2 linked regions of the Homo sapiens genome follow. The protein of the gene in region 2 interacts with the protein of the main gene of each other region in a biochemical or structural test. Each region holds a gene or a part of one and is shown on either strand. Other genes may lie near its edges.

Region 1 (3,751 bases), on a different chromosome or scaffold from region 2:
TGTTTATTCAACTCATATCTAGCCCACGTCATTTACGTACTACAATGAGAAGTATTATCCGTGACCTTATAAGCTTATGGAAGAGATAGATACGTATCAATAATAAGAACACTGTTAGAAAGTGTTAAGCTACTAGTAAATGGAGGAAAAACAAAAAATAGAAACGCAGAGCAGGGAACAGAGTGATTCTAAGTTTAACATACGGAAGAACGGAAGGGGCTTTTTGCCTAACTCCTGGGAGTGATATGGAGAATGACGGTGGGTGAAGTGGAACCAAAATATGAGATTTTGAGGGAAAGAAGATTGGAAGAAGACGAGTGTATGAGAAGCCTCAAGAGGATTTATTATGAGATTTCTGAGTGCCAGTTCCAAGAGACCTGAACTAGAGACAGTGGCAATCTGATGATGAAATGATTGGGTAGGTTGAGTCGTAGCTGTTTCTGGGGGGCTGGAAGACAAAGGGGAAGATAACCTGGGGTTGGTGCTCAGGTGGGCATCTCTTACAGTGACAAGGACGTGGGAAGGAATGTGGCACTCACAATGGTGTCAGAGGTGAGTACAATCATCATGCCTGCTCTACGGGAAGGAGCTGACACTCTCAGTGGGAACAACGATCAATCTCATTTACAGACAAAGAACAGAGTGACCTGGCTAACAAATGGCTGATGCAAGGTTGAATCCGTCTGACCCGAAGCCTGTGACAAGGCGCCCTAAGACAGAGGTTGACAAAGTTCTTTTTTTCTTGTGATGGAGTCTCACTCTGTCGTCCAGGCTGGAGTGCAGTGGCATGATCTTGGCTCATTGCAACCTCCACCTCCTGGGTTCAAGCGACTATCCTGCCTCAGCCTCCCGAGTAGCTGGGATTACAGGCACCCGCCATCATGCCCAGCTAACTGTTTTATTTTTGTAGAGATGGGATTTCACCATGTTGGCCAGGCTGGTCTGGAACTCCTGACCTCAGGTGATCTGCCTGCCTTGGCCTCCCAAAATGCTGGGATTACAGGCGTTAGCCACTGTGCCTAGCTAAGGTTTTTCTACAAAGTGCTAGAGAGTAAATATTTTAGACTTTGGAGGCCATGCCTTCTCAGTCCCAGCTACTTACTCACTGTGACAGGAAAGCAGCCATGGATAATACGGGTGTAGCTGTGTTTCAGGAAGACTCTAAAAATAGGAGGCAGCCTGAATTTGGCAAACAGTCCTAGTTTGCCAACCCTTTGCCAAAGAATTAAAAGAGTCAGCTTAGTTCGTAGAAGCACATCTGACATTCTAATGATGACACAAGTTATTTTGATTTGTTGATTGCACAGCATAGGAAGCCGGATTCGATGACTACCTGTGGCTGCATTTTAGAAGAGTCAGCCTCATGAGCTCCAGATTCGCTCCTGTGACTAAGCAGGAAACTCTCACTTACCTAATGACCGTGAATTTGATAAACTCGGCAGAGTCTAAGATCCTTCTCATGGAGCTGATTTCCAGGTAGCTGGGGGCTTTGAAGGACACCCCCGGGGGCATGCCATCAACTACCACACAGCCAGGGTTAATTGTGATTTTCCTGTAGGGAACTTTCACAGGAAAACCCATACCAATAGCTTCACCTACAGGGACAGTGAGACAAACAGCACAACAGCACAGATTAACCCACCGCCTTAAACAGCCTGTCAAAAGCACAAGATCAACATTTATTTTAAAGACTGTCTCTGCTGTTAACTAAGGTCTTTGTACACTTCAAACAAATTTAAATATGAACCTTAAATTTTTTTTTTTTTTGAGACAGAGTCTTGCTCTGTCACCCAGGTTGGAGTGTGGTGGCTTGATCTCAGCTCACTGCAATCTCTGCCTCCCAGGTTCAAGCAATTCTCGTGCCACAGCCTCCTGAGTAGCTGGGATTACAGGTGTGCACCACCATACCCGGCTAATTTTTTGAATTTTTTAGTAGAGACAGGGTTTCACTATGTTGGCCAGGCTGGTCTCGAACTCCTGGCCTCAACTGATCCACCTGCCTCGGGCTCCCAAAGTGCTGGGATTACAAGTGTGAGCCACACTGCCAGATGGTGAACCTTAAATTCATTAACTTTCATACTGACAATCAATAGTGTAACACTAATGGTATCTTATTAAATAAATTTAGCACAAACAACTCACTTTTAAATTTTAACTCCTTTTATATAGGATTACAACCATCCAACCATCATCTGCTGAAAAGATCTTATTAAAACAAATCTCTTTGCTTATAGCAACTGTACTTTGCAAATGCAAAACTTACCAAATTTCCGACTAAAGAGGTCATTCACTTGTTCTCTTAGCTGTCTAGCTTTTTCAACTTTCGAGAGTCTTTCATTATCATCATCTGAAACAGTTCAGAGAAAACCCAAAACTTAAATACTGCTTTTTTTTTTTTTTATGGTAAAGAGATGGTATCTCACGATGTTGCCCAGACTGGCCTTGAACTCTTGGGCTCAAGCGATCCTCCTGCCTAAGCCTCCCAAGTAGCCGAGACTACAGGTACAAGCCGCTGCTCAATGATGCACTTTTAATCCCAATTTTTAGGAGCTCTGTGTAATGTTTTCAAGCATTTTCCATTTTTTAATGATTTAAGTATTTGAGCACTTTGAGCTAATTAAATTTGAAATTGTTTAAAATAATGCCTAACTAAAAATGCTACAAATTTATTCTTGTTATAAAGACCTTTACCTGCTGTTTTATATAGATTTTTTTTTTTTCCCAGATGGAGTATGGCTCTGTCACCAAGGCTGGAGTGCACTGGCCCCATCTCGGCTCACTGCGACCTCCACCTCCCGGGTTCAAGCACTTCTCCTGCCTCAGCCTCCCAAGTAGCTGGGATTACAGCCACACACAACCAGGCCTGGCTAATTTTTCTTGTATGTTTAGTAGAGTCAGGGTTTCACCACGTTGGCTAGGCTGGTTTTGAATTCCTGACCTCAAGCGATCCTCCTGCCTCAGCCTCCCAAAGTGCTGGGATTACAGGCGTGAGCCACCGTGCCCGGTCTCATATAGACTTTTTTTAAGGAACAGACTAGCCATTTGGGTGGTTAACAGGATTTAGCTCATGCCAAGTGCCAAAACTTGCCGTTGCTGTTTGGAGAGCAACTGTATTTGGAAGGCAACTGCTGTAGGAGTCTGGGAGGAGCACCAGGCAACGTGTAATGTATCCGAGTCCCCGGATGAGCTGAGCAAACCTCTCTAGTTGGGAAAGTCCAAGAGGCCCTGAAGAGACCCCCAAAAACTCTGATGGAAGCAGAGAACTCATACCTGGAATTGTCACCTGAATGATGTTAAGGTCTTCAACACCTGATGCAGTAGTATTAACATTGGGTGATGAATTTATTTTTCCTGAAAATATACATTTAAAATCAGAATTTGTAGAAAACACGGTCAACATCTCTAATAATCATGCTGTCTGAGACTGTTTTATCTCAGTCCTGTTCAAGGTTCTTTCTTTCCATGGTAGATCATTTCAAGAAGACATGATGCCCCCTGAAGGGCTGCCTTTCACTGTTTTTCTCTTCCTGGGGGTACTTAGGAGATCATCACACACTCACAGAGCCACCCAATTATTAAATAACTAAAAATTGTGAAATAGCCTGAACTACAACTTTGAATGGGTTTTCTTTTTTCTTTTTGAGATGAGTCTTGCTCTGTTGTCCAGGCTGGAGTGCAGTGGTGCGATCTCGGCTCACTGCAACTTCCGCCTCCCGGGTTCAAGTGATTCTGCTGTCTCAGCCTCCTGAGT
Region 2 (3,751 bases):
AGGGCCTTGGAATAGTAGCACTCACCCTGTGGATTTAGCAAACACAGACACTGTATATTTGCCAGCTTTGCTGGAGTCTCTGACAATGAAACCTCCTTCTTTCCCCTGAAACAACGAAAAAGAAGCTGTCTGTAGGAGGAAGTGGTGCTCACACCTGCATCCCACCTGCCCAAACTTGAGAGAGAAAATAGAACAACCCCTGATTTTACTGCCAAGTTCCACGCTTGAGCTACAGCCTCATTGCTTTTAATATTAAAAGGTGCAGGCCGGGCATGGTGGCTCATGCCTGTAATCCCAGCATTTTGGGAGGCCGAGGTGGGCGGATCACCTGAGGTCAGGAGTTCGAGACCAGCCTGGCCAACATGGTGAAACCCCGTCTCTGCTAAAAATACAAAAATTAGTCGGGCGTGGTGGCATGTGCCTGTAATCCCAGCTACTTGGGAGGCTGAGGTAGGAGAATTACTTGAACCCAGAAGGCGGAGGTTGCAGTGAGCCCAGATCACGCCACTGCACTCCAGCCTGGGTGACAGACCGAGAGTCCGTCTCAGAAAAACAAAAACAAAAAAAATGGTGTAATTGGGATCCCAGACGATGGCAGCTTTGACACTGCCTTGCCCAAAGGTAGGGGGCAGAACAGGCCCTCAGTTCAAGATCCTCACTTATGCAAGGAGAATGCTGTGTGCTAGTGGTTCCACACTTACCTCTTGCTTTAGCAGTTGCTCAGCCTGACTCCGAGTCATGTGTTTGGAATACCACCTGTGAAGGGAGAGTGCTGCTTGAGTGGCTCCTGGTCATAAGCAGATTGGAGGTTACAGCACCCTCCAGGGCTTGTCCATGTCAGTGATTCAGTCAACTCACTCAAACCCTATTTACTGAGCATCTGTCATGTGCATAGCACACTGTATCCCTTTCCCAAACCCAGGTTGGCATTGAAGATTCATGGAAATGGAGAGTAGCAGGCAAAGGCAAGCAGCAGGGAGTTGCAGGGAAGAGATCAGGGACTAGGGCACTTGAGAACAATCCACTTCCATGATTAGGGAGGAAAGGACAACAGTAGCAGTTTGACATTTTAATTCTTTCATCAGGTCGTCAACTCCTTTTTCTTTGAGTGTGATTCTTCTGGATTTGAGGGCATGGTGACCTCTCCAGCTCTCATAAATGGAGGGTGTTTGGGGGGTAAAGGTAAGACAGATACACTAATTTGAGGTGGTGGCATCATTTGATTCAGATGGTACTAATTTTAATATATATCTTGAAATAAAAAATATGTTGAAAGTAGAAAAAAGTGTATATATATATATACACACTTGTGTATGTATACATAATATACCTATATATACACCAGTGTATGTATACATATGTATACATATATACACTTGTGTGTGTTATATATATATATAAATATATATAAAATATATATAAATAAATAAATATATATATATATAGAGAGAGAGAGTTCCTCCTGGAAGATTGTGGACTGACATAAACATACTTACTCATACATTTCTATGGAGTCTTCTGCTTCAGTGACATAGTTACTAGGAATGTAGCCTTCCTGCCTGTGAAGGAAACAATGTGGCAGTTCATCCAGCACCTCCCCAGCCTCCAGGAGACAGATTCATATGCCCACGTCCCTGAGCTCAGAACAAATCTCAAATGGAGGTATATGTATCATGCACCTCCCTCAAAGACAATCATGTCTCTGATGCATGGTTAGGCAGTGAGCCAGTGAGGTGCAGAGCTTATGCACATGTTGCATTGGTTATATGTGCCCAACAACAGAGGCTCAGAGATGTGGCAGAGGCCATGTATAGGGAGCTGCACGCTGGGAAGTACTTGGAGGGAGAGCATGTTCAGTCTGGTGTGGGAAGAACAGTCTCTGATGAGGATGCTGATCACGGGAATTATGCCGCAGCACTTTTTGCGTGTAGGGAGTGGGCAGGCACCAGGCTCAGGAAGGGCTGGTGTGGACTCACCCATTTTTATCTCGTGCTCTCCACCATGGTAAGTTGCTTTCCTCCAAGATAAAATATTCATCACCCTTCCGCAGCTGTAGATCATTTGCATTCATTGGCATGTAATCATAAAGGGCCACAACCTTTTTCAGCTCACTTGTGGAGACTGGTGCTGCTGCTGGCTCAGGCGGTAGTGGCTTTTTCAAGATCTATGTAGTTAGGAGAAAAGGTAGGAGGGTTTGTCAAGATACCAAGCACTCTTCTCTTCTCTCCCAACTCTCTGGCTTACTCAAGACACCCAAATCAGGCATACTAAAATATTACTCAGCAGTCATTCAACAACCATTTTTAAGCACCAGTGCAGGAGTTCTCAGCCTTGCACACATATAAAGACCATGTATGGAACTTTTAAATTCCAATGTACTTTCGGAGGCCAAGGCGGGCGGATCAGTTGAGGCCAGGAGTTCGAGACCAGCCTGGCCAACGTGACGAAACCCCATCTCTACTAAAAATGCAAAAATCAGCTGGGCATGGTAGTGTGTGCATATAGCCCCAGCTACTCAGGAGGCTGAGGCAGGAGAATAACTTGACCCCAGGAGGCGGAGGTTGTAGTGAGCCAAGACCACGCCACTGCACTCCAGCCTGGGTGACAGAGTGAGACTGTCTCAAAAAAAAACCCACAAAAAACAAAAAACCAATTCCAATACCTAGTCAGTTTCCTCACAGACCAATTACATCAAAATCAAACTCTCAGGAATGGGACCCAAACATTACTATTTTTAAAGCTCACTAGACAAAAACCATTTATAGCTAAGGTCAGGAAACCGGCTTGGCACTAAACTTGTACGTGAATCTACTAAGTGGCTCAGAACCTTGGTTTCCTTCTTTGTAAAATGAGTATAATAATACCTGCTCTACTTACTTACAATATGTGAGAAAGGGCTTTCTAGCCCTCAAGAAGGAACCAAAAAAAAAAAAAAAACTTCTGAAGTGTTAGTGATAGGTGGTGTTAGTGCTAAGTGTTGAGTATGTTGGTATTAAGTGTTAAATTCTTCTAACTTTACTGTATGTTTGAAAATACTTTCCAGCTGGGCACGGTGGCTCACGCCTGTAATCCCAGCACTTTAGGAGGCCGAGGCGGGTTCGAGACCAGCCTGAACAACATGGTGACACCCCCATCTCTACTAAAAATACAAAAATTAGCTGGGCGTGGTGGTGCATGCCTGTAATCCCAGCTACTCAGGAGGCTGAGACAGGAGAATCACTTGAATCTGGGAGGCGGAGGTTGCAGTGAGCCGAGATCATGCCATTACACTCGAACCTGGGCGACAGAGCGAGACTCCGTCTCAAAACAAAAACAAAAGCAAAAACAAAACAACAACAAAAACTTTACATTAAAAAAATCAGGTTTTGTTCTAAACAGGTGATTGGATTACATGGTTGCTGAGAGCCTTCTATCTTTCCATCGAGGAGGAAATCCTAATTAGAAGAACAAATCCCCCATCTTAGCAAGAATACCAATTAACACTGCCAAGTCCCAGGGTAATTCTAAGACTCTAGTGTGTTCTTAGGGCTTGACTATAAGTTTCCATTTAAGCAGTGGCAGCACCCAGTTTCCCTGTATACCTGGTCCTCCTCAGGCGTTGGGGGAAGAGGCTTTTTTGTCTTCCGGTGAGAACTCCCAGGTTTTAAGCCTGCAAAACAAGAAGCCAGTGATGATATGGAATGCACTTTAGGAAAGGGGCCAAGGACAGGTTTGGTCAGGGACTTTGCCGTCCATATTGAGTGCCTTTAGG

What was found.
Region 1: the proteins of BTK (region 2) and GTF2I form a complex in vitro, tested with the Homo sapiens proteins (4 studies listed by BioGRID and IntAct, with this or other methods).

The regions. Positions count from the first base shown.
Region 1 is NC_000007.14:74,751,690-74,755,440, reverse strand, and holds part of GTF2I (general transcription factor II-I), read right to left. Parts: intron 3,352-3,751; coding exon 3,271-3,351; intron 2,348-3,270; coding exon 2,264-2,347; intron 1,596-2,263; coding exon 1,412-1,595; intron 1-1,411. UniProt on the Homo sapiens protein: Interacts with the basal transcription machinery by coordinating the formation of a multiprotein complex at the C-FOS promoter, and linking specific signal responsive activator complexes.
Region 2 is NC_000023.11:101,358,592-101,362,342, forward strand, and holds part of BTK (tyrosine-protein kinase BTK), read right to left. Parts: intron 3,650-3,751; coding exon 3,582-3,649; intron 2,165-3,581; coding exon 1,977-2,164; intron 1,560-1,976; coding exon 1,497-1,559; intron 757-1,496; coding exon 702-756; intron 106-701; coding exon 26-105; intron 1-25. UniProt on the Homo sapiens protein: Non-receptor tyrosine kinase indispensable for B lymphocyte development, differentiation and signaling. Binding of antigen to the B-cell antigen receptor (BCR) triggers signaling that ultimately leads to B-cell activation.